Homo sapiens: one gene and its partners. The protein of the gene in region 1 purifies or fractionates together with the protein of each later gene. This does not show direct contact. Each region holds a gene or a part of one and is shown in the gene's direction. Other genes may lie near its edges. The genes, in order: TMC4, MARCHF6, NDRG3, SLC12A6, TPCN1, ANO6 and SLC12A7.

Region 1 (4,010 bases):
AGCTTCCTGACCATCCCGCTGTGCCTGGCTGCCGAGGGCCGGCTGGAGTCAGCCCTGCGGGGGCGGCTGAGCCCAGGGGGCCAGAAGGCCTGGGACTGGGTGCACTGGTTCCTGAAGATGCGCGCCTATGACTACATGTGCATGGGCTTCGTGCTGCTCTCCTTGGCCGACACCCTTCGGTACTGGGCCTCCATCTACTTCTGTATCCACTTCCTGGCCCTGGCAGCCCTGGGGCTGGGGCTGGCTTTAGGTGGGGGCAGCCCCAGCCGGCGGAAGGCAGCATCCCAGCCCACCAGCCTTGCCCCGGAGAAGCTCCGGGAGGAGTAAGCTGTCACGACGCTCCCTCTGCCAGCTGGTCCCGGGAATTCTGTGAACCAGGCTGCTGTCTCCTCCCCAGAAAGAGTCCTTACCTTGGAGAGGGTCCTGGAGAGAATTTCCTCTTCCCCAGCTAAATACCCTGCCTGCAACTGAAGCAGACCCGGGGGTGTCCTCCCTGCCCTCTGCCCAGAGGCCACCTCCACTCCTACAAAATCAAAGTATTGTCCAGACAAGAGTCACTGGCCCCTGCTCCAGCTTCTGGGTATCCAGAGAGCACTGCACTTCCCCAAAACGGAAGGGGCCCCTGGGCAGTGGGTTTTGGGCAAATTCCCTTTCTTTGCATCCACAATGTGGGGTCGGAGCTTGGGGGCAGGTCCTGGGAGTGGGAAGCCTCTTCCTTGTGTCTTTCGCTCCACTTTTAGCTCATCGCACCAATATTGCAGACTTGGAAGGAAGCATAAGCTTCCCATTTCACAAAGGGGAAACTGAGGTGCGGGTGCGCGGGCCTGGGGACGGCCGTCCCATGGCTTCCATCTGAGCCACCTCGGGACCCCAGCACTCCTGGCGCCCTCTTCTCATCGCTTGGCCTATGACAGGTCACCGTGTGTAAATCTTTCCCAATAAAGTGTTGCACAAAGGCATCGTGTCCGTGCAGGTATCTGGGTGATAAACGGTGGGAAGGACTTAGTCCACCAAGTCCCAGGGTGAGGTACAGCCCCCCCGCCCAGCCCAGGAACCAAACTGTGAGGCCCGGGGCACCACGGGGACTTCAGCTCCCAGGAGACCTTTCGCATCAGCGGCCCTGAGAAACCACAGGAAGTGTACCTTACTCCCTCCGGGCCACCTGCTGGCCAGGTACACACCTGCCCCTGGCCCCTCCCTTACCTGGGGCAGTGTCTGCCTGGTGGCCACTAGAGACAGCCCAGCCTGGGGCCATGGAAGAAAACCCGACCTTGGAATCAGAAGCCTGGGGCTCCTCTAGGGAGTGGCTGGCCCCCCGGGAGGCCAGAGGAGGTAGGGAATGCCAGGAGAAGCTCAGATCCATCCGACCTTCAGGCTAGGTGGGAGTCCTGCTGGAGGAGGAAAGGGGAGGCCTGGCCTCCTGAGTCTGAGGGCTAAAGAGAGAAGGTTCCACTTCCTGATATTATGGGGGAGAAGGGAACTGGAGGCTGGAACTCCAGGGTCTGAGGAGGAGGAGCCTGGAGAACCAGGCTAGTCTGGGAGGAGGGGAGGGCTAAGGGCTGGGAGTTTGGGTGTCTTGGGAATAGGAGAGGCTGGGTTCCCACACTCCTGAGCTAGAGGGAAAAGGAAGTTAAAGCCTGGACTCCACTGCCCTGGAGTAGGAGGGTTCCACGCTTGGGGATGGAGTTGAGGGCTGTGGACCCCTGGGTCCAGGGGAAGTAGAGGCTGGCACCCGGACTCCTGGGCCTGAGGGAGGAGGGGCTGGGAACCTGGTTTCCTGGTCTGAGGGAGGAGGGGCTGGGTGCCTGGATTCCTATGTCTGAGGGAGGAGGAGCCGGGGGCCTGGACTCCTGGGTCTGAGGGAGGAGGGGCCGGGGGCCTGTTCTCCTGGGTCTGAGGGAGGAGGAGCCGGGGGCCTGGACTCCTGGGTCTGAGGGAGGAGGCGCCGGGGGCCTGTTCTCCTGGGTCTGAGGGAGGAGGAGCCGGGGGCCTGGACTCCTGGGTCTGAGGGAGGAGGAGCCGGGGGCCTGGACTCCTGGGTCTGAGGGAGGAGGAGCCGGGGGCCTGGACTCCTGGGTCTGAGGGAGGAGGAGCCGGGGGCCTGGACTCCTGGGTCTGAGGGAGGAGGAGCCGGGGGCCTGGACTCCTGGGTCTGAGGGAGGAGGAGCCGGGGGCCTGGACTCCTGGGTCTGAGGGAGGAGGGGCCGGGGACCTGGTTTCCTGGTCTGAGGGAGGAGGAATTAGGGCCCAGACTCCCGGGTCTTCCCAGCCCCCTGCTCCTCCCCAGGCCCATCGCTGTCTTCTGTGCTGAACGAGCTGCCCAGTGCTGCCACCCTTCGGTACCGAGACCCTGGGGTGCTGCCTTGGGGGGCGCTGGAGGAGGAGGAGGAGGATGGAGGAAGGAGCAGAAAGGCCTTCACAGAAGTCACCCAGACAGAGCTGCAGGACCCTCACCCTTCCCGGGAACTGCCCTGGCCCATGCAGGCCAGACGGGCACACAGGTGAGGCCCCACCTCCAGCTGGGACCCGCACAGCCCGGACCGGGCCCTTCTCCCATACCCTGGACTCGGTCTCCTCCCTCTGTCCTCTGCCGCTCCTGGCTTCTGGGGCCTCTCTCTGCCCCGCTCAGAGCTGCCTCTCTTGGTTTCTTTCTTCCCCTCATCTTTGTCTCTACTTCGGACTCCAGGTGAGTGCTGCCTTTCGATGGCTCTGGGGTCTCTTCTCTCTGGGATTTGCCGTCTCCCTGGTCTCCACCAATCCTGTCTCTGCCTCAGTTTCTCTCTGTGTGTGTGTCCAAAATCTGTTAATATTTATTTCTCTCTGCTTTATACCTTCCTTCATCTTTGCCTCCTCTTCCAAGCCTCCCTCTCTTTAACTTCTTTCTTTTCCCATTCTCACTGCATAATTTGCAGGGCCTGGTGAACAATGAAAATGCAGGTGCCCTCCTTCAAAAATGATTATGGGCCCATTGCAGTGGCTCACACCTGTAATCCCAGCACTTTGGGAGGCCCAGGCGAGTGGATCACCTGTGGTCAGGAGTTCGAGACCAGCCTGGCCAACATGGCAAAACCCCAACTCTACTAAAAATACAAACATTAGCTGGGTGTGGTGGCGGGTGCCTGTAATCCCAGCTACTCGGGAGGCTGAAGCAGGAGAATCGCTTGAACCAGGGAGATAGAGGTTGCAGTGAGCCAAGATCGTGCCATTGGACTCCGGCCTGGGTGATAGAGCGGGACTCCATCTCAAATATATATGCGTATATATATGCATATGTGTGTATATATATACACATATATATGTATATATATGTGTATATATATGGAAAAAACAATAAAAAATAACAATGTATCAACACTCCCACACCGATCAGTAGTGGGATCATGCCTGTGAATATAGCCACTATACTGCGGCCTGAGTAACATAGCGAGACCCCCATCTCTATTTTTTAAAAGTAATAATCAAAGTAACAATATGACAAAAAATAATACAAGTTAAAAGAACAGCTATCTATATAACATTTACCTTGTACCGGGTGTTATAAGTAATCTAGAGGTGATTTAAAGTGCATTGGAGGGCTGGGTGTCGTGGCCCATACCTGTAGCCCCAGCGCTTTGGGAGGCTGAGGCGGGAGAATTGCTTGAGCCTGGAAGTTTGAGGCTGCATTGAGCTATGATTGCACCACCGCACTCCAGCCTGGACAACAAAACGAGACATTTGTCTGTAAAAATCAGATAAAAATTAAAATAAAATAAAATAAAACAAACACAGGAGGATGTGTGTAGCCTGTATGCAAATACTATACCGTTTTATATAAGGAATTTGGGCATCTACAGATTTCAGTATTCTTGGGGAGTCCTTGAACCAACCCCCATGGATACTGAGGGATGGCTGTATTCATAAAGTGAGAGCCCAGATAAACTCCAGCTAGGGCAAGTGACACGGCATGACAGCACCCTGTGCGTCCCTCCCCTGACACCCCCTTTTTCCTCACAAATACAAGGTAACCTCTT
Region 2 (3,500 bases), on another chromosome or scaffold:
AATCTCAAATTTGTATTTTATTAAATTAGAATTGGAAAATACTTATATCCTGATTATTTAAAGTGGCAGAAAAAATGCCAGTAAGGGTATAGAAAGTGGGCAGGATGGGGTTACAATTTAGGAATAGTGACTGGTAAAGACCTGAGGGGGTGACAGTTGAGGAAAGCCCTGAAGGAGTTGAGAGAGTGAGCCACGTGGATCCCTGAAGGCAGAATATTCTTGCAGAAAGTAGGTGCAGTGGCACCCAGGTCTGTTTGAGGATCTGCAGGGAGGCAAGTTTGTCTGTAGTAGGAGGAGGAAGGCAAAGAATTGGCCCTGAAGTCAGAAAGGTCATGGAGAGCCACCTCCTAGAGAGTCTTACACGACATAAGCACTTTGGCTTTTGCTTGAGTGAATTGAGGAGCTCTTGGAAAGCTTTGAGCAAAGGAGTGATCTAACTTAGGTTTAAAGAGGATCATTCTGACTGCTGTGATGAGAGGAAACTGGGTTGGAGTGGCTAGGTCAGAAACAGGAAGCCAGCTGGGAGGATAATGCAATGATCCTGGTGAGAGGTGAGGGTGGCAGAGATGAAGGGGAGGTAGCAGTGGAGGCCTTGAGAAATTTTTAGGATATTGTTAAGGTACAGTCAAAAGGATTCTCTAGCTGTTTGGATGTGAGGTGTCAAAGGAAGGAGTGACCTTTTGTGTAACATGCTACTAATATAGCAAGTGAGGAGAGAACCAAGACCTACCCATCAGTTTAGCAAAATGAAAGTCTTTGGTGACCCTTATCAGAAACAATTTGGTGGAGTTTGTGGGGAAAGCCTCACTGAGTTGGAGAGAGAATGAAAGGAGAGGTAATAAAGACAGTAAGTTTATTAGATTCTTAAGAAGTTGCGTTGTAATCCCATTAAATAGTAGTCATATGCAAAATACAATTCACATTATAAATCCTGCCTCTTTCAGTGATGCTCCAGTGAGTGAACTGTCCCTCGAGCTGCTTCTGCTTCAGGTTGTCTTGCCAGCATTACTCGAACAGGGACACACGAGGCAGTGGCTGAAGGGGCTGGTGCGAGCGTGGACTGTGACCGCCGGATACTTGCTGTGAGTATGGGCAGCTGACTCCTTGGACATGCATGTCATTTGTGACTATGGAATAACCTTTCTGGAAAAAGTATGTTCCATGGCCCACTCAAGAAAAATTAGTTTTAATAAGAGACAATTTAGTAATATTTGCAATTGCATATAATACTTCTAAATGAAATTTTTTTTTCTTATTGTCCATCCTTTCATGGAGAATATATACATCTTTTTGCCCTCTTATAGAAGTTTGCTGCTGGTCCAGCTTTCATGGAGTAAATGTCTTTTTTTTTTTTAGTGCATTAAAAACAAACCAGTTTACCTTTATTTAGACCAACTAACTTACCTTTATTTAGTGCTCATAACCTGGGAAATGGGTTCTTCTCAAATTTGATTTCTCAATCTTCTAGTGAACATGTTGCATTTTTTTCCCCAAGCTTTATATACTCTATATTTATTTAAAAGTTGAATCTTTAAAAGTTTTTCAGTTTGGCATCTTGTAGGTATCTTAAAGGTGAAGTACAGATTTGGTTATATTTGCTTGAACATCTGTCGTCCTCTAACTGCTTCCTCCCCCAGTCTCATTTCTGACCTAACTGATTTATAGCTTGGAGGTTTTACAAATTTATAGCTTGTAGCTACATGTTGCAGTAGTCATCTGTAGAGAAGATAAGAAGTTTTTCTTTTCCTCCTGTAGATCCTTAACAATATTGTACATTGTAAGTATGTACTTACACCTTGTGCTTGTAAGTACTTACCTCTTGTACTTACAAGTGTACTTGTAAGTATCTTGTACATTGTACTTTTTTCTTTCAGTTACTGATTTCTTCTCAGATACTGGCTGAAGAAAACGTAAAATAGGTTGAATTTATGGGATATCCTACAAGTTCATTAACATTAGAAAGGTTTGATTTAAAGTGGGTACAAACATTTAGACCAAAATTAGGTAATAATGTGGTGCACAAATTCTGTATTATACATTTTCTACCCTTAGTAGTAAATATGAAGAAAATGAGTGTCATGTCTGCCATTTTATTGTGACCTGAAGTGAGACTTGTTACTGATGTAATTTTTGCACAGGGATCTTCATTCTTATTTATTGGGAGACCAGGAAGAAAATGAAAACAGTGCAAATCAACAAGTTAACAATAATCAGCATGCTCGAAATAACAACGCTATTCCTGTGGTGGGAGAAGGCCTTCATGCAGCCCACCAAGCCATACTCCAGCAGGGAGGGCCTGTTGGCTTTCAGCCTTACCGCCGACCTTTAAATTTTCCACTCAGGGTAGGTGCTATACAGACTTAATCACATATAGAGGTTTTTTTGGTTTTTTTGTTCTCCAAATTGCTGTTGAGAATTGGTGCTATTAGTATGCAGTCCTCTGTGTAGACATGTTCCACATTTTATTACCCTCATTATGTAACGTAAATGATTAGGTAAGTTTATCAAATTTTAGAGATAAGTCAAAGAGTTGGGATTCCCTGGGCTCTTGCTCCCTATTTAAGAGGAAAAGACTCTAGAGTAATTAAGAAACTAACATTATTGATACATTTCAACAGTGTGTCAGGAACTAGAATGGGCATTTGGATGTTTTCTCATTTAATCTCCACTCAAATACTGCAAAGTGTAGGCGATAATTTCATGTTTATAGCTAAGGAAACTGAAGGCAATATTGGTTAAGAATGTGCCTATTACATGTTCGTTAGCAAGTGATCAATCTTTGTGCACCTCAGAATTTTGTCAGAAATGTAAGCTGATGACTGCTATATGATTACAGTGAAGTCATCATTTATATCAAGTCTGTTATTTTAAAATGCCCTTTAATAATGACATGGGCTTGTGAGTCTGATCATTTTAAAACTTGGGCAGGTTATTTAACCTCTCAGCCTCACATTTCTTTTTTTGTAAAAATAGTCATTATTATACCTTTGTAGATTACTGTGGGTCACATGTGTTCAGTCATTCAGCAAACATGTCTTAAGTGTCTATGATTGATATTTTCAGTGTCTGTGAGGATATAGAGAGCATACGTGGTCTTTGCTCAGAAAGAGCTTACAGTCTACTCAGATGAGAAAGACAGTGGCAGATTTGAGCTCTCATGCTGGTGTTTACAGTGGGTGCTGTGACTCCTTCAATCAAGAACCACTTGTTCTTAATATGGACCCAAAGGAATCTTCCTAGAATAGGTGGTGCCTGAACTGTCTTAAACATTGAGAGACCTGTCAGAGAGTGAAAAAAAGGAAGTGGGAAGGGCATTCCAGGAATATGTCAGGACTAGGGCACATTAGGCATGGTGGGCTTAGAATTGCAGATAAGAGAGTTGTGTTGTTTTGTTTTTGAGACAGGGTCTTGCTCTGTTGCCCAGGCTTGGTTGCAGTGTGCGATCATGGCTCACTGTAGCCTTAACCTCCTGGGTTCAAGCGATCCTCCTACCTACTCAG
Region 3 (3,500 bases), on another chromosome or scaffold:
CAGGAGAAAAGGGCAGTATCCTTGGTAAAGTCTCCTCCACCCCAGGGGACGAACTTGGAGAGTGTTTTAGAGCAAGTCCAAGGGTGTGTCCATATCATATGCCATTGTCCTGGTCTCTTGTATTGTAAGACCTCTGAGCTTTTTCATGGTCACAGAATTATCTACACTTGCTCCTTTCTTGGAGTTTTTAGAAAAACTCTTTCACCCAGGTACAGAGCTCTTTACCCAGTAGGGTGATTTTTCTCCTGTCTTTGGTATTAGTGTGGATAATGGTCATTGGCGAGCTGTCTGGTCAGCTGCTCTGGGCAGCTGGGCCCTGGGTGCAGCCCTGTACCTGCCAGGCAGACCATGTATGTCTTGTCTCAAGTGGCTGTGTCATCCTTGCCTGTGAGCCGCTACCAACCGAGCCCACACCCACAGCCCTGTGGCTCACTGGGAGGAGCAGGAGGCCCTCTCCTAGTCCATTCTTATCCTTTTCCTATGAAATAGCTGATCTTCCAGCCCACTTCTGATCCAAAGCAAGATGACTGTTTATAGCAGAGGGGAAAACAATTGCCTTTGTCTAGTTGAGGAAAGTAACATTTGAGATGTTATTGAAGTATCTGTCAGCCTCACCTCCTCTCTGGGACCTTAAAATAAAATTTTATCCCTGGCTTAGAGTATTCTGTCAGTGTCTACCAGGCAGCTGAGGTTGCCACTTGGCACTCTGGGGTCACTAACCTGCCTTTTCCTGTGTCCATCCTGCTTCCAGTCCCGTATGTGCAGCTCAGTCACCTGAGCACCGAGTCAGGTACCTTCCTCTGTGCTGGCCCTGCCCCGCCTTCCAGTCTCTCCTGGCTGCACTGGCTGCCTGCAGCATGTCCGCGGTCTTCCTATGCAGTGAGAGCCCGATAGAACGTGGCTCAGTACGCCCCAAGAGATTTAGCCTACAGGTCCAGCCCTGGTCCCCCAGGAGGAGGAAAGGATCTGGTTGTAAGGGGCAGGCCTCCTCTTGTCATCCTAAATCCAGGGTCACAGCAGCAGCTGAAACTTGATAGGCAGGGCCCATCTTCCACCACCACCTACTGATCCTTGAATTAACCTCCAGACACAGGAATCCAAGGGCAGCCTTGGCTCTAAATAGGAGGGTCAGAGCCTGTGCCCAGAGAACTCTGCAGATGATAGCACCTTTTGACCCCAGCATTGAAATGACAGCTAGGGGAGTGGCTGCTGCCCAGGACGATAGGCAGGGAGGCTATGCCAGGTAAGGCCCAGTCCCAGCCAAGCTGGAAGGACCTTAGAGTCAAGCAGTGGCAGAACAGGAGTCTGAGTTAAACACCTGCTTCTCTGTCCCTGGCAACCTGTACCTCATCCCTGTGTTGAGGTCAGCTCCAAGCCAATCTGCCCTCCCCTTCACCTGCACCATCCTACAAATCTCCTCCCTGGTAGCAAGGTAGCCTGTGGACACGGATGGTAGTCTCGTTGTATCGGGCTTGCACTGTGTTTGTGAAACACCTTCATACTTGTGTGTGTGTCTTTCTTTTCTTTTGGTTTAGTCTTGCATGCACTGTAGGTTTTGGTTACCTGTTTGGGTTCCCAAAGCCTCCATTCTGTCACTGTCTGAATGGTGTGGGCATAGTTAAGAGGCTATACTCTGGATTTAGGGTTTCCCCTTGTTCTGCGGTGACTACAATCAGCTGAGATTCCAACCAGATCTAAAGGATTAAAGTGGCCTCACATATCGCCACTCACCTAGAGCAAATGATACAAAATGGGGATGGCTATATCTTGTCCTGGGTGTCATGGTAAATGAGTCGGAAAAGCTAAACATAAAGACTTTGATGAGACTCCTAGGTTAGCTGGGCTTAACCGGGGCTTCATCTTCTAGTCCCCTTGGTTCTCTGTTACAGTACCATCTGCCAGCATGACTCGGCTCGCCCGATCACGAACCCACTCAACCTCGAGTAGCCTCGGCTCTGGAGAAAGTCCCTTCAGCCGGTCTGTCACCAGCAATCAGTCAGATGGAACTCAAGAATCCTGTGAGTCCCCTGATGTCCTGGACAGACACCAGACCATGGAGGTGTCCTGCTAAGCAGATGCTCCTCCCCTGGACCATTGCAAGTCCATCCTTCAAATGACCACTCCATAATATAACATTTCATCCAGTAAACTGGCCTCTACTATCTTTAACTCATGCATGGCCACTGAACCTCTCTCTAGTAGCCTGGATTTATCATTCTCTCTGCCTGCCCACCCCCTTTTTTGTATAGCCCAAGAACCACTTCCATGCCATACTGTAACATTCCAACATCTTTAGCTGATCAGATCTCTCCATATCCTCTCTTGCCAGCTTTTTCCCGTGCTCCCCCAACTATGTATCAGATAAGATTCTTTGATCCCGACTCTGTGTGTGCGAGCACGCGTGTCTGTGTTTGTGTGTGCATAGTTCTGTGGTTTTAGACACGCTTTCTTGTAGTGCTTCTGCAAAAAACAAAAAAGGGACTTATTTTGCATTCTCAATGGTGTTTTTAAGGGAATTAGGCAGAACAGATTTCTAGGTTGGGTAGGCCACTGCATTCTCTTTTGTTTGCAAATTGGTCAACAAAATTTGCAAAGTGATTTCAGGAGAGAGCAGCTTTGAGGAATGTGGAAAATCATAATTGCCGTCTGGACCATTGATTGATTGTGACCAGTAGCAGAAGGGTGCCTGTTACATAGAGAGGCTCCTTCTGTCCAAATGAATTTCTGTATACTCTTCTATAAATAAAAGGGAGGAATATATTCTGCTGGAAGCCCATGAACCATCGCTGAGGTTCTGATACAACATAGAGTTTTTTCCAAGGAGTGAATGTGGTTTAATTACTGGACTCTCTTAGCACAGGAAGGTGGAAACAAAATGCCAGGCCTCTGCTCTGAAGAGCAAAACTGCTGTCGCTGCAGTATCTGATACCAGACATCCACATATCCACAAGAAGTGCCTCTTAGGTCTGTGACAGAGAGTGTGTCTCCATTCCTCAGTTCCCAGAAAGGGGAGAGGTTTGGCCTAAAAAGCATGTAGATGGGGGAGAAATGGGTGGGGGGAGAGGAACAGCCATTAACACAGTATCATGTTTAACAAGTATAGCCTTGATTTCAGTAGATGTAATGGAAGCCAAATTAAATTGATACAGAACCCATTTCTCAGAGTCTTTTTTTTTTTTTGAGACAGAGTCTCGCTGTTACCCAGGCTGGAGTGCAATGGCGCAAACTTGGCTCACTGCAACCTCTGCCCCCTGGGTTCAAGCGATTCTCCTGCCTCAGCCTCCCGAGTAGCTGAGACTACAGGCACCTGCCACCATACCCAGCTAAGTTATGTATTTTTAGTAGAGATGGAGTTTCACCATGTTGGCCAGGCTGGTCTCAAACTCCTGACCTCAGGTGATCCACCTGCCTCAGCCTCCCAAAGTGCTGGGATTACAGGCATGAGTCATTGCTCCCAGCCATTAGAAAGATTGTTAATCCTATGAACTCCCTTTTGTAGG
Region 4 (3,500 bases), on another chromosome or scaffold:
TATAATCTCAGCTACTCAGGTGGCTGAGGCATGAGAACCTGGGAGGCGGAAGTTGCACTGCAGCCTGGATGACAGAGCGAGACTCTGTCTCAAATAAATAAATACCTCTACCCTGACAAACAAAACCTAACAAAAAACAAAATTATCATTTTTAGTCACACACCAAAATAAGTGAATTATATTGTTTTGCTAATCATAGGTGACTATTACTTATTATTATTATTGTTATTATTATTTTTTGAGACAGAGTCTCACTCTGTCGCCCAGGCTGGAGTGCAATGGTGCGGTCTCCACTCATTGCAACCTCCGCCTCCTGGGTTCAAGTGATTCTTCTGCCTCAGCCTCCCCAGTAGCTGGGACTACAGGCACGTGCCACTACACCCAGCTAATTTTTGTATTTTTAGTGGAGATAGGGTTTCACTATGTTGGCCAGGATGGACTATTACCTTTCTCTTAAATAAGTCTTCTATATTATATAATTATTGAATACTATCCATGTTTTACCTCAGCATTCTAATAGCTAAAATATGTTGATTTGGTACCTTCTTAGCTTGTCTGAAAGAAGCATCCTCTTGATAGTTTTGTTTTTTTTGTTTTTGTTTTTGTTTTTTTTTTGAGACAGGGTCTCATTCTGTCAACCAGGCTGGATACAGTGGTGTGATCACGGCTCACTGCAGCCTCAACTTTCTGAGCTCAAGCAGTCCTCCACCTCAGCCTCTTGAGTAGATGGGAACACAGGTGCACACCACTATGACCAGCTAATTTTTTTTTTGTAGAGACAAGGTTTTACCATGTTGCCCAGGCTGGTCTCGAACTCCTGCATTCAAGCAGTTAGCCCACCTCAGCCTCCCAAAGTGCTAGGATTACAGGCGTGAGCCACCGCGCCCAGCTGGTTATATACCTTAACTGTTTTTCCTCTCTTCTCTATACTCTGTAGCCAGATTAAACTTTATAATATACTGCTTTATACCACAAGAAGCAATCAGCCAAATCCAGAATATGGGAAGTTTTATTGGATAACTAGATTCTTCAACAAATAATTGGGATGGGGTGGAGGAGGAGTGATGGGAAGAGAGGGAAAGCTGTTACAGATAAAAAGAGCCGTATCAGCCAAATGCAGTGTGTGAACTTGGTTTGGATTCTGATGTGCATAAAACAATTGAAAAAAGATACTTTTGAGACGAGTGGGGGAAATTTGAACATGTACATGATATTAATATTAAGGAATTGTTAATTTTCTTATAGATGTTTATGACATTGTGATAATGTAAAGCTGTTATCTATAAAGATATATATTGAAGTATTTACAGGTTAAATGAAATGTACTCCAGCTCCTTCCTCCCCACTCCTCCCCAAAAAAGTTGGGGAGAGATAGACAAAACAAGATTAGCAAATGTTTATAATTTGTTGAAGTAGAGTAAAAGGTACATTTTACTATTTCTTAGCTTTTATCTTTGAAGATGTCTGGGAACTCCTGAGCTCAAGTGATCCTCTCACTTGGGTCTCTCAAAGTGCTAGGATTGCAGGCATGAGCCACCATGCCTGGCCAATTTTTAAAAAGGTTAAATTACAATTAAAGGATTTTCTTTTGAGTGTGTCCTAGAATGCTGTAGATATTTGATTAAATATCAGTGATCAATACAGTGATTACCTCAACTTCTTGTCTTTGATCTTCGGTGGTCTCTTCTGTGTCCTCACTAAGTCTTTCCATCATGAGCCCAAATTCTTTTGTTCTCAGTGGCATGTTTCTAGATTCCAGATTCTCATAAATTTTGATATTACCTTTACTGGAATGGAAGGAAATGAAAGAAGGTACTCCTGCAAACCTGGGAACCTTATGAAAGTTATGCTTTCCCATTTTAAAGCTGTTAGAAGAAGGGGAATGTTTCTAATGCTGATGTTTAAGGCAACTTATAATGCTGTAAGCTTTTGAATTATGGCTGCTGCTTCTTTTGCCCTTCGTGTCTAACATATACTTCTGGACTACTAAGAACTTTGTGCAAATTCTAAAAAGGCACTCCTTTGTGCCCTGAGCCATCATGACTTCACTGGAGAAGGGCAAGCTGGATTTCAACCCTCTTCCCCTTGCCCTTCTGGCTTAATGCCCTCGTGCACTGTCTACACAGCTGTAGCTGGTGAGCTTGTTGTTTCAGAATAATGAAGTTACATGAGTTTAAGTTTTTGGTGATGTGTGTTTCTGAGGAGTAGGTATGAAAGTTTGGAGAGCTATAGTGTAGGAATTATGTGAGCATTTGAATGTTAAAACAATGTATTCTTTTAATGAAGTTTTATAAGTTTTACAAGTATGTGGAAAAACAAGAAGCTATTCTCTGTTAAAACCCTGTAATTAGTGCTTCAGTGTATATATGTTTTTATTTTTTGAGACAGGGTCTAGCTCTGTTACCCAGGCTGGACTTGGGTAGGCAGTGGCTATTCAGAGGCACAACTGTAGTACACTGCAGTCTTGAACTCCTGGGCTCAAGCCATCTTCCCACCTCAGCCTCCTGAGTAGCTGGGACTACAGGCATGCACCACCATGCCCAGCTAACTTTTGTATTGGCTTTTGGTAGAGATGGGGTTTTGCCATGTTGCTCAGGTTGGTCTCGAACTCCTGAGCTCAAGCGATCTGCCCATCTCGGCCTCCCAAAGTGCTAGGATTACAGGTGTGACCCACCGCACCTGGCCCTGGTATACTTTTAAGAATCTCAACAATTACATTTGAAGGTACAAGCACAAAACTGCAGAACATACAACATATACACATGCATACAGCACCTTGCCTTAATGGTAGTTCAGTACCTGATGAGTAGGAAACACTATCACCATATTTGCTCAGCTCTAAGGTGTGTACATTACCATATTTTAACATTTCTGATATTCAGGTGCGTCTTACTTTTGAAGAATTTTTAAGCTACTGTTAAAGTGGAATTTATACTTAACAAGATTTCAGAATCAAGTCAGTATTGTAAATAAGTCAGTCTGAGGGGCTTTGCGAAACCTGAAGTTTTGAAGTTACCTTTGGATGTCTTAACTGAAAAAAATGTAACGGCTGAAGTTTTTTTCTTCTTAAAATTTCAGTTTTTGTAGTTGAAAACTGTAGAAATAGAAAACAAAAGCCACATTGTTAGGAAATGACAGGTCTTCTAATTTTAGTCTTTTTTTTTTTCTTTTTAAAATTTCCTGTTATCTTAGCTCAGAGCTGGGTTTCAGTCTCCAGTTTTCTAGCTAATTTAACCAATGGCAGCTTTTTGTTTGTAGTTTTATTACGGCATTGCTAATCCTCATTATATTTGTCGTGGCCTTGAGCAAAAAACTCAATTGATGACATTCACCTGTTTATAGTCATAACCATTTGGTAAATAACTTTAATTTTTGGCAAAGTAGCACCTGAATTTCTCTCATTTTACCAGACAGGTCTACATTTACTTTGGGGTAAAGCTATTTATTTTTCATATTGCTAGTTTAAAAAAAGAGAGAAGAGAGAACACTAATAAGTTAAA
Region 5 (3,500 bases), on another chromosome or scaffold:
AAGTTCAAGTCTTTGCTACTGCACAAGCGAACCGCTATCCAGCATGCCTACCGCCTGCTCATCAGCCAGAGGGTAGGAACTATGGGCCAGGGAGGGGCTTGGTCCCTGTCCTCCCTCCCTTGCCCAGAGCAGCCCCTAAGCATGGCCAGGCCAGCCACTTTAGAAACCAGGAACCCTGCCCTTGGAAGAATGAACAGAGCTGGAGTGGATCTGGAGTGGGTGCCCCAAGGGAAGGGGAGTAGCCTGGGTTCCACACTGCTCTTCCCTCTCCCCCAGAGGCCTGCCGGCATCTCCTACAGGCAGTTTGAAGGCCTCATGCGCTTCTACAAGCCCCGGATGAGTGCCAGGGAGCGCTATCTTACCTTCAAGGCCCTGAATCAGAACAACACACCCCTGCTCAGGTAAGAGCAGATGCCTGGTAGGGGCAGCATGGCCAGACAAGGTGTTCACGTCTAGAGTGAACGGGGGCATGTGAAGGCCCTTGAGGTGGGCAGGCCTATAGGCTTGTCAGAGACTTCCTCCACAGATGTTTATCCATGTAGACTTACACACTGGATTCATCAGGATGCCTTTTGCAAGTGACAAAAGTCCAACACAAATCCAATTCAAGCTGACTTGAGAAAAAAGGAGCTCATGAAGTGGACTGGCCCAGCTGCTGGCCCTCGAACCCCCAGTGGGGTGGGATAGTCCCATGTGAGCCAGGTGGACAGACAGGGGTGAATATACTTCCCCAATCCCCTGCACACACCTGGCTCGGCCGCAGAGAACTGACCCGAGATCTCCAGGGGTAGGATTGGTCTTCCAGGCTGTTGATGACCAAGCCCTGTCCACAGCAGCCTGCTGTGGAGCTGAGAACAAGCCCTGTTTGAGCTGAACTTGCAGTCCCAGGTGTTGCATTAAGGCCCCTGCTAAAAAGTGAAGTTTCCGTCCTCCTAAGAATCCTAGTGCTCCAGCAGCTGCCTCTCCAGGGCACTGACACTGTCCGTAGTTAGTGCCATCGGTGGAGACTTAAGTGGATTACATATTTGTAGTACCTCAAGGTCAGAGGAGATCCAAACGCTTGCAGGTAAAGGATCCCCCAGCACTGCTGTGCTGGGACTCACATGGTGTCCCCTCTCTTCCTCCCTCACCCCATAAAGGTGTCCATAGGCAGGCAAGTAAGAGAAGCAAAGCACAGTGGAACTATGTTCTGATATTTTGTCCCTTTTTATTTTGCTTTTGGTAGCCTAAAGGACTTTTACGATATCTACGAAGTTGCTGCTTTGAAGTGGAAGGTGAGTTCTTCTCTGAGACCATAGAAGGAGTAGACAGAGAGGTCCCCACGTGGGGCAGTGAGGAGCAGGGGCACCCCGAGATCCAGCTCTCTCCCTGCTAGAGCAGCTCAGCCCCCAGCTTGGCATGGTACACTTCAGGGATCACAGGTGGCCCCAGCCCCCAAATCTGCCCTTACATTTGTGATACAGTGTCATCGTTAACAGCACCGAATCTTACTTAGACCCCATTGGTTATTGTGTGACATCAGGCGGGTTACTGAGCCTTTCTGAGGCTTGTCTTACCTGGGAAGTGGCGTAAGGATAATCCCTACTGACAAACCTCATTTCAGGACTATACTAAAATAAGGCCTCTGCATGGCACATTGTAAACGCTCGGTACACACTGGCTGGCTGTGTTGTCATGTAGATCCCTGAAGGTTAACATTGTTCCCCAGTTTAGCAGGGTGAACAGGAAAGGAAGCCAGCATCCTGGCTCCAGGCAGGGCCCTGGTCCCTGGCCCTGACACCCTCCCTCTTGGTCCTGTTGTCTACCAGGCCAAGAAAAACAGAGAGCACTGGTTTGATGAGCTTCCCAGGACGGCGCTCCTCATCTTCAAAGGTAAGTGGGCTTGAGTATGGCAGGTGTTGGCAGCTGGGGGCCGATGGAGGTTTTCAGAGACCACAGATAAGCGTCTGAGGAGAGGTTCAGAGGGGTGTGTGTGTGTGTGTGTTTGTCTGAATGCCTGTGTGAAGAGACAGTGTGATTACCCCAGCAGGGACGTAAGGGTGGTAGGAAGCAGATTGGGAGAGAAATGGGTAACTTAACCCAACCAAAATGGGTAACTTAACCCAACCAAGACATTTGGGGTATTTTTCTTTTTTCATACAAAAGCAAAGATGTTCATTGAAGAAACTTGAAAGTGAGATAATTAGAAGTAAATGGAAATTTACCACCCAGATAACCACTGTTAGTTCTCTGATGTGTTTCCCTCTGTGCCATTTTTCTATGCATTTTTAAAACAGTAGGGTGACATTATATATTCCATTCTGTAATCTGCCTTTTCATCCAATAACACATATGTGTGTGTGTGTATATATATATGTGTGTGTGTGTGTGTGTGTATATATATGTGTGTGTGTGTGTATATATATATATATATATATATATATATATATTTTTTTTTTTTTTTTTTTTTTTTTTGAGGCGGCGTCTCGCTCTGTTGCCCAGGCTGGAGTGCCGTGGTGCGATCTCGCTCACTGCAACCTCCGCCTCCCAGATTCAAGCGATTCTCCTGCCTCAGCCTCCCGAGTAGCTGGGACTACAGGCATGTGCCACCATGCCCGGCTAATTTTGTGTGTGTGTGTTTTTAGTAGAGATGGAGTTTCACCATGCTGGCCAGGCTGATCTTGAACTCCTGACCTCGTGATCCACCCACCTCGGCCTCCCAAAGGCCTGGGATTACAGGCGTGAGCCACTGCGCCCGACCCCGATAATATATTTTTGCCCTCCTCTTATGGCAGGATGTATACTTTGCATGACCCCTTGAATAATGCTTGTGTAGTGTAAAGTTTGAAAATTTGAAATTGGGTGCTCGTATTATTTACCTGACAGTTGCCCCTTAATTTCATGCCAGTTTCAGCAGTGATCAGGAGAGCTTTGTCCTGCTCTATCTTGGTTCCAGGTTGCTCAGGCTCCCCCCAGAGCAGCTGTAGTCAGTGCAGTCTTGTCTGGGGGTCTGAGCAGAAGCATGGGTACCACTCTTTGAGCAGGACCCTCCTTTCTTCACCTCTGGGGTAAAGACCATGCTTACCTGCATGCACGAAGAGTGTGGTAGGTGGTTGCACCTGCCCAGAAAGAGATAATAATAATTAAGGATACAGTAGGGGGAACAAGTGCGTAAATTTACATTTTAACTTGTCTTTTCTTCAAATAGGTATTAATATCCTTGTGAAGTCCAAGGCCTTCCAGTATTTCATGTGTAAGTGTGAAATATCTCCACTCTAGGCCACTTTCCCCCTGAGTCCTTTGCTGTTCTAGAAGCGGGAGAGGCAAGAGATTGGTCCTAGAGTCCTGTGTTTGACTTTTTATTGTGGGGAATTCCCAGCATGTATAAAAGTGAAGAGAACATTACCACACGCATCCCCGTGCCCATCACCCATCTGTATCTTCACTCCGGCTCATCATCCTCTCTAGACCTAGATTTTTTGGAAGCAAATTCCAGAACCACAGAGTTGACTGGTCGATAT
Region 6 (3,500 bases), on another chromosome or scaffold:
TTTAGGCCTCAGAAGCAGAAGCAGGCCTCAGAAAACAATCTCCATCTTTGACCTGCCCTATTTTTACCTTTGTCTCTCCAATTTTAGAAACTAAAACTATAATCTTTCCCCATCTTTCTGTGTGAGAACTGCCCATAAAGAAATTCTCCCATCTACCTTGTCTGAATGTAGGCCATAAGACCCCCATTTCAGAAGGGATCCTGCCCCATACCCTGGAGGAAGGAATGCTGCACAGAGATGCCAGAAAAATCTGATCAGACAGGCCTTGCTGGGTTTCCCCATTCAGTCTATTAGTATTAAATCGTATGCTTTTTGTCCAATCACTTTTCAACATGGTTCAATCATGACTATCCAATGAAGTCTCCATAAAGGTCCAAGAGGACTGGTTCAGGGAGTTTCTGGATAGCTGAACAGTGGAGGTACCTGAAGGTAGCTTGCCCTGGGAGGGCGTGAAAACTCAGTGCCTTTTCCCGCATACCTCACTCTATGCATCTCTTCATCTTTATCTTTTATAATAAACTGGTAAACGGGAAGTGTTTCCCTGAGTTCCCCAAGCCACTACAGCAAATTAATGGAACCCAAGGAGGGTGTCGTGGGAACCCCAATTTATAAACAGTTCATCAGAAGCATAGGTAAAATGACCCGGGGCTTGTGATTGGCATCAGAAGTAGTGGGGGGCAATTTTGTGGGACTGAACCCTTAACTGTGGGATCTGACACCATCTCCAGGTAAATAGTGTCAGAATTCACTTGGAGGATACCCAGCTGGTATCCACTGCAGAATTGATTGCTTGCTTGTTGCTGGGGAGAAATCCTTGCACATTTGGTCACTGAAGTCTTCTGTGTTGATTGTTGAATAAGAGAATAGAAAAAACACTTAGTGTTTTTCTGCTCACAGCCTCCCTCCCCTCCCAAGTCTGTCACAAACCCAGAAAGTTGTTAATGATCCTCTTAGCCCAAAGTGCTCACAATGAATTCTCACTTATTTTTTTGTTCTATGCAGTTAGCATTCATCCTGTATTTTGTCTTTGTTATTCATTATCTTTGCGTTTATCATTCCCATAACCATAGTGTACATTTCTTGGTGACTGGCCTAGGTTATTTAAGTCTTCTAGAGATCATGCAAAATATCTTAAATATTGTACATATTCCATTGCTATAATTTTTAAGAGTTGTCTCTTTTCCTCATTCTCCTCTAAAATGTAAGCTCCCTGAAGACTGGTACCTTGTGTGTTTTGTGTTTTAAGCTGTGTCCCTCATGGCACCTTGGTAGGAGCCAAGCAAGTAATTGTGGAAGGAATGGATGATTTATTCTTCTAAGATAACTTGATTAACATAATGCCTAGTGGTTTTATGGCCCTAGTAGAATTTTCTTCTTCTGTGGCACTTTGAGATACCCCCAGTTATCTGTTCTAAAAATGCTGAGTGTATGTATTTTACCAGGCACTCTGCTAGGTTCCAGGTTCACTGTTCTCTAGTACCTCACTGTCTAGAAAGGAAACGGATAATTTCAGTAACTTGTGATTAATACTGTAATCAAGATCTGTACCAGGTTCAGTGGTGATACCAAGGAGAAAGCACGTGACCTTGCCTAGGGGAATCCAGGACAGCTCTATTGGGGCAGCACCTGAGCCAGCCCTGTTGGGATGAAAAGACAGGTGAGGGCATGGGGCTAGGACAGCAGAGCGTCCTGAGTGTTTCTAAAGGCATGATGATTTCTCAAAAATTAAATCTTGATACACCCTGGCCTTATTCACGATGGCAAGGGGATCATGTTGTGTACATATCATAAATATATACACATGTATAAATATGTATACATTATATATACATATGTGTGTGTGTGTCTGTATGCACACTCTCTACCAAGGAGATGACAGCTAAAAACAAAGCAAACTATCCTCAAACTCTCTTTTAGAATAGTCTTGCTTCTTTTTATAAACCTTTTGTTATTTTCAGTTTCAAGTCCACAGACATGATTTATCTTGCACATTCTTTCAAGTCAAATAATAGCTTTCCAAAAGGTCCTCCAGTATCCTCTTAAAATACTTTATTTGGTTCTGAGACAAACACAGCTCTAAAAGAATAAGAGTTACTCTTACTTAATTTGTATTTTAGCTGTATACACACTCGTCTTTTCTCAAGGGGTTGCAGCAGTCACATATGTCGATTGCTCTACATTTATTATTTTTTCTTTTGGGAGCCTAGAAATTTAGACCAAATGCTCCTATGAAAATTTCCATCAGTTATATGGGATTTTAATTCTGATATTCTTGAAGGGAGATTATAAAGGATTAAGAATACCGGAAATAAAGGGCCGGACATGATGGGTCATGCCTATTATCTCAGCACTTTGGGAGGCCAAGGTGGGAATATTGCTTGAGCGAAAGAGTTTGAAACCAGCCTGGGAAACATACTAAGACCCAATCTATACAAAAACTGCAAAAATCAGTTGGGCATGGCACATGCCTGTGGTGCCAGCTGCTTTGGAGGCTGAGGTGGAAGATTCAATTGAACCCAGGAAGCCAAGGCTGCAGTGAGCTGTCATTGTGCCACTGCAGTCCAGCCTGGGCAACAGAGACCCTGTCTCAAAAAAAAAAAAAAAAAAACTCACGATTTGGCTTTAAATTAAAGGATGATATTGATCTCTTAGTGATATCTGTAGCAGATGATTAAAATGATTGTATTTTAATAAGTTTTCACTCTAATCCTTTAGGTTTTCTTCTGTTACACTTTACTTGGTGTGTATTTTGTATTTTAGCTGTACATCTTAACCAAAAACACTCGTCTTGAAGCGGGGAGAAGATTTCTTATTCATCTTTGTATCTCACAGCCTGAATATCGTAATGTTTTTCACATAGTAGATGTTCAACAAAACATATGTTTTGGGACATTTTTAGATTTTTTTTTTTTGAGATGGAGTCTTACTCTTTTTCCTAGGCTGGAGTGCAGTGGCAAGATCTGGGCTCACTGCAAGCTCCACCTCCCAGGTTCACGCCATTCTCCTGCATCAGCCTCCCGAGTAGCTGGGACTACAGGCACCCACCACCACGCCCGGCTAATTTTTTTGTATTTTTAGTAGAGACGGGGTTTCACCCTGTTAACCAGGTTGGTCTTGATCTCCTGACTTCGTTATCCTCCCGCCTCGGCCTTCCAAAGTGCTGGGATTACAGGCGTGAGACATTTTTAGATTTTAATGGAAGCTTTGCATGCCATATGATTTAAGCTGTCTGATTATAATGAATTCAGGGCTGGGTCTGTGCAAGAGTAGTCAATTTTAGAACAGAAAATATTTCCAATTACCTTTAGCCAACGAAATGTACTACTCAACTGATTGGTAAATCATATGTAAAGATACAGATTGAAGGAATTTTATTCAGCCAAATGATTGTCTTATGACATTATTTTTTTTTCTTTAGTTTTGTATTTTGGTCATTGCAACTAAAATTAATTAGCATCCATCCCAAAAAGCAGTTTGAAGAATACTGGTAGATGAGTATG
Region 7 (3,500 bases), on another chromosome or scaffold:
CCAGAGGTGCCTGGTCTGTTGTCTGGTCAGAAGCCCTCTGCCTGCCTGCCACATCTTTCTCTGTGTGGCTGAGCTCTTCAGCCCGTGGGAGGTGGCGTCACCAGCCACCTGCAGCCAGTGTGTGTGGCTGCTCTGAGGATTGCACGGACGCCCGCATGGGTCCTGTCCGTGTGCTGTGCCCAGAGCTGCCGATTGTGGCTCCTCCTGCTACCTGGGCCCAGGGGCAGCTGTGGGAAGGTCGTGGATGGCAGAGCCATCCTTGCCCGTCGCTGGTCCCTCGGCAGGGTGCCGACCCGCAGGGCCTTTGTGTGGTTGCATCTTCAGTCCCAGCCGGGCCTAGGGCATGGTGTCCAGGAAGGGGACAGGCACACAGGCCCCGTGGGCCTCAGCTTCTGGGAGGTGAGGGTGGCCTGATGAGAAAGGTCACCACAGGGTCTGGGGAACCGCGAGTGCCCTGGAGACGCTGGTCCTGTGTTGTGTGGTCGGGGAAACTGAGGCGGGGGGGCAGGCTGGGGCCACACAGGTTGCAGGCAAGCCGGGCGTAGGCACAGCTCTGAAGCCTCCTGGGCTGCAGCCCTTTGTCAGGGCTTCTTCCCAGGCCAGCCGCGTGATGTCCCGGGGACCTACTGTGAAAGGCGTTTCTGCTGGTCTGTGTCTTTAAGATTCATCTGGGCTAGACCTGACCAGCCTGCAGCTTCTCTCCTAAAAGGGTGGTGTCATCTGCCCCATCTTCCTGCCCTTCTCCCTGCAGGTGTTTGGCCACGGGAAGGCCAACGGGGAGCCCACGTGGGCGCTGCTGCTGACAGTCCTCATCTGCGAGACTGGCATCCTCATCGCCTCTCTGGACAGCGTGGCCCCGATCCTCTCCATGTGAGCCCCCACAGGACGGGGACCTGGGGATGGGTGTATGGGCCTGGAGCGTGGGGCAGTGTGGATGGGAGGTCCTGCTCAGGACAAGCAGTAGACAGGCATGGCCAGCTGTGGGCAGTCAGGATCCTGCCGGGAAGGGAGTTGCGCCGGGGAAGACAAGTACACAGGCCTCCAGGCAGCCGCCCGCTGGGGTCAGCCAGGGACAGTGTGGCTGGACAGACGGCTGCTGGGGAAGGGACGATGGCCCATCTCTTGATGGACCAGGTGGTCACAGGATGGCTGGAACCTGAGGGGGCCTGATTCGGAATCAGTCTGAGTCAGCTCACGTGCAGAGACAGACATGGGGAGACAAGGCGCAGGTGGGAGGGACAGTGACAAGGGTGGTCTCCCAGGTGGCAGTGACTGGGGGCTCAGGGGGGCCCAGTGGGCCCGTATCAGTGGCCGGCCGTCCCTGCAGGTTCTTCCTCATGTGCTACCTGTTCGTGAACCTGGCCTGCGCCGTGCAGACCCTGCTACGTACCCCCAACTGGCGTCCACGCTTCAAGTTCTACCACTGGTGAGGCCACTCAGCACGGGCGTGAGGAGCCCCACAGGCTGGGACACTGGGTGCCTCTGCCACTGGTGAGGCCGCTCAGCACAGGCGTCAGGAGCCCCACAGGCTGGGACACTGGGTGCCTCTACAAGGCCAGCTGCTCTGGGCCTGAAGACCCCAGCGCGTCCTTGACTGTTCCTTTGCGGAGTAAGCCCCTGCGCAGCTGATGAGACTGCACCTGAGGAAGGCCTCTGGTTACGAGGATGCCCAGGTGTCTGCATGTGCCTTGTACCTCCCGTGGTCAGCCCAGCCTTCCCAGGCTTGGGGCGTAGCCCATCAGGGCTGTGGGTCTTCTTAACTCCCCTCCCCAGGAATCAGGCGCTGGGTGGACGCTTCAGCCCCTTGTTGCATGCACAGCCGAGGTGCTGTGTGCACGCTGGGAGCTGGAGCTATGTACTGGGTTTTGGAGTGACAGCTCCCACAGGGGCCCAGGGAGCCACGTCACCCCTCAGAGGTGGTTGAGTACAGCCATGGTCGTCAGGCGTCAGTGACTGTTTTCCTAGTGTTAACAGAGAGTTTTACTGAGGGAGGGGCAGTGTCCGTGTGGTGGTGGCTGAGGTGTGGGGGCTGCATGGCGTTGGGCCGCCCCGAGCCACTTGCCCCGCCCCCAGGACCCTGTCCTTTCTGGGTATGAGCCTGTGCCTGGCGCTGATGTTCATCTGCTCCTGGTACTACGCGCTGTCCGCCATGCTCATCGCTGGCTGCATCTACAAGTACATCGAGTACCGCGGGTAAGCGCTGTCAGCCCCCCTTACAGACCCGGCGCACGGGAGGGCGGGCCCCTCTCATGCTATGCCTGGGGCAGCTCCCTGGAGGGGCCTCCCTGGGGCTTGAGCGTCGTGTGCCCTCACAGGGGCAGCTGGGAGCACGTCCAGGTGGGCTGTGTTGTGAAAGCTGGGGTTTCCCTCCCACTTCCAGCCAGGCCGAGGTGCCTGCACTTGTGGACAGGGTCTCCAGCCTGGAGCTCTGTCTCGTGCCGTCCTCAGCAGGCGGTGAGCCCACGGCTGACTATTCCTGCTACGTGTCTCGCGAGGTGTCCCCAGGTTGTGTCTGTACTCACTCGGCAGCCACAGGCGTCCTTCCCCGTGCCCCAGCACCCACCCTCCCTCCACCTGCACCCGCCTCGTGCCCGGGGTCCAGCCACTTCCCTGTCATGGGCCTCCTGTCCCCCGTCCTGTGAGGAAGGCACCTCACGCATGCTGGACGTAGACCTCGTTCCCTCCACAGCCACAGCACCCTCTGACCCGGTGGCTCCTAGGACGGGCTCCCTTCAGGGCAAGGGTGGGCATGGAGGCCTCCCTCCTCATCCAGGGACTTTTCCTGGGGGTCCTGTTTGCCCCAACTCACCTGCCCCCAGAAGTCCCCTTTCCCAGGTGGGAGAGGAGCCTCCAGGTACGCGGCTGGACAAACCCCGACTTCCTTTCCCACAGGGCCGAGAAGGAGTGGGGCGATGGCATCCGTGGCCTATCCCTGAACGCCGCCCGCTACGCCCTGCTGCGCGTGGAGCACGGTCCCCCCCACACCAAGAACTGGAGGTGAGCACCGCCCATGCCCCGTGGTCCTCAGACGCACAGAAGAGCTGTTTCTGAGGTCGGCCTTTGAGTGGGGACCTTTGAGTCTCAGGGGCCTCTCACCTTCAGCCGCTCAGGCAAGGTCTGGGGTGTGAACACTGCCTGGTGCAGAGCGGATGGCGCAGCTGGGGGCCGGGGGTGTCCCTGCTGCAGGGTGGGGGTGTGGGGAGCCGGCCCCTCTGCCAGCACAGCCCTGGGCTTGGGGTGGGAGAGGGTGGCTCCTGCTGAAGCAAAGGCCATCTTTGGGAAGCCTCTGCCCCTCAGGGCCTCGGCGGGGGCCTCAGGTGTGTGCCCCGGGCCATTGTCCCCTCAGGGGCCTCGGCGGGGGCCTCGGGTGTGCCCCGGGCCATTGTCCCCTCAGGGCCTCGGTGGGGGCTTCAGGTGTGTGTCCTGGGCCATTGTCTCACCTGTCTAGCATGTCACCTGTCCCACCTGTCTAACCTACCTGTTCTCCTGTCCTGCCTGGC

What was found.
Region 2: the proteins of TMC4 (region 1) and MARCHF6 purify together in Homo sapiens (affinity purification with mass spectrometry; one large-scale study listed by BioGRID and IntAct). This does not show direct contact.
Region 3: the proteins of TMC4 (region 1) and NDRG3 purify together in Homo sapiens (affinity purification with mass spectrometry; one large-scale study listed by BioGRID and IntAct). This does not show direct contact.
Region 4: the proteins of TMC4 (region 1) and SLC12A6 purify together in Homo sapiens (affinity purification with mass spectrometry; one large-scale study listed by BioGRID and IntAct). This does not show direct contact.
Region 5: the proteins of TMC4 (region 1) and TPCN1 purify together in Homo sapiens (affinity purification with mass spectrometry; one large-scale study listed by BioGRID and IntAct). This does not show direct contact.
Region 6: the proteins of TMC4 (region 1) and ANO6 purify together in Homo sapiens (affinity purification with mass spectrometry; one large-scale study listed by BioGRID and IntAct). This does not show direct contact.
Region 7: the proteins of TMC4 (region 1) and SLC12A7 purify together in Homo sapiens (affinity purification with mass spectrometry; one large-scale study listed by BioGRID and IntAct). This does not show direct contact.

The regions. Positions count from the first base shown.
Region 1 is NC_000019.10:54,170,361-54,174,370, reverse strand, and holds the start of TMC4 (voltage-gated chloride channel TMC4), read left to right. Parts: upstream 1-1,210; 5' UTR 1,211-1,253; coding exon 1,254-1,332; intron 1,333-2,269; coding exon of another isoform or gene 2,270-2,287; coding exon 2,288-2,501; intron 2,502-4,010. Other genes in the region: membrane-bound acylglycerophosphatidylinositol O-acyltransferase MBOAT7, read left to right, coding at 1-327. UniProt on the Homo sapiens protein: Voltage-gated chloride channel involved in high-concentration salt taste sensation. Depolarization induced by high NaCl concentration may trigger the activation of TMC4-mediated chloride influx into taste bud cells, helping the return to resting potential.
Region 2 is NC_000005.10:10,409,195-10,412,694, forward strand, and holds part of MARCHF6 (E3 ubiquitin-protein ligase MARCHF6), read left to right. Parts: intron 1-944; coding exon 945-1,082; intron 1,083-2,138; coding exon 2,139-2,343; intron 2,344-3,500. UniProt on the Homo sapiens protein: Endoplasmic reticulum membrane-associated E3 ubiquitin ligase that plays a critical role in mitigating endoplasmic reticulum stress, the regulation of cholesterol and lipid homeostasis, and ferroptosis.
Region 3 is NC_000020.11:36,652,091-36,655,590, reverse strand, and holds part of NDRG3 (protein NDRG3), read left to right. Parts: intron 1-751; coding exon of another isoform or gene 752-790; intron 791-1,889; coding exon 1,890-2,071; 3' UTR 2,072-3,500.
Region 4 is NC_000015.10:34,327,782-34,331,281, reverse strand, and holds part of SLC12A6 (solute carrier family 12 member 6), read left to right. Parts: intron 1-3,500.
Region 5 is NC_000012.12:113,276,964-113,280,463, forward strand, and holds part of TPCN1 (two pore channel protein 1), read left to right. Parts: coding exon 1-72; intron 73-276; coding exon 277-401; intron 402-1,225; coding exon 1,226-1,274; intron 1,275-1,808; coding exon 1,809-1,872; intron 1,873-3,187; coding exon 3,188-3,232; intron 3,233-3,500. UniProt on the Homo sapiens protein: Intracellular channel initially characterized as a non-selective Ca(2+)-permeable channel activated by NAADP (nicotinic acid adenine dinucleotide phosphate), it is also a voltage-gated highly-selective Na(+) channel activated directly by PI(3,5)P2 (phosphatidylinositol 3,5-bisphosphate) that senses pH changes and confers electrical excitability to organelles.
Region 6 is NC_000012.12:45,222,595-45,226,094, forward strand, and holds part of ANO6 (anoctamin-6), read left to right. Parts: intron 1-3,500. UniProt on the Homo sapiens protein: Small-conductance calcium-activated nonselective cation (SCAN) channel which acts as a regulator of phospholipid scrambling in platelets and osteoblasts.
Region 7 is NC_000005.10:1,074,064-1,077,563, reverse strand, and holds part of SLC12A7 (solute carrier family 12 member 7), read left to right. Parts: intron 1-751; coding exon 752-870; intron 871-1,327; coding exon 1,328-1,426; intron 1,427-2,073; coding exon 2,074-2,193; intron 2,194-2,892; coding exon 2,893-2,997; intron 2,998-3,500. UniProt on the Homo sapiens protein: Mediates electroneutral potassium-chloride cotransport when activated by cell swelling. May mediate K(+) uptake into Deiters' cells in the cochlea and contribute to K(+) recycling in the inner ear.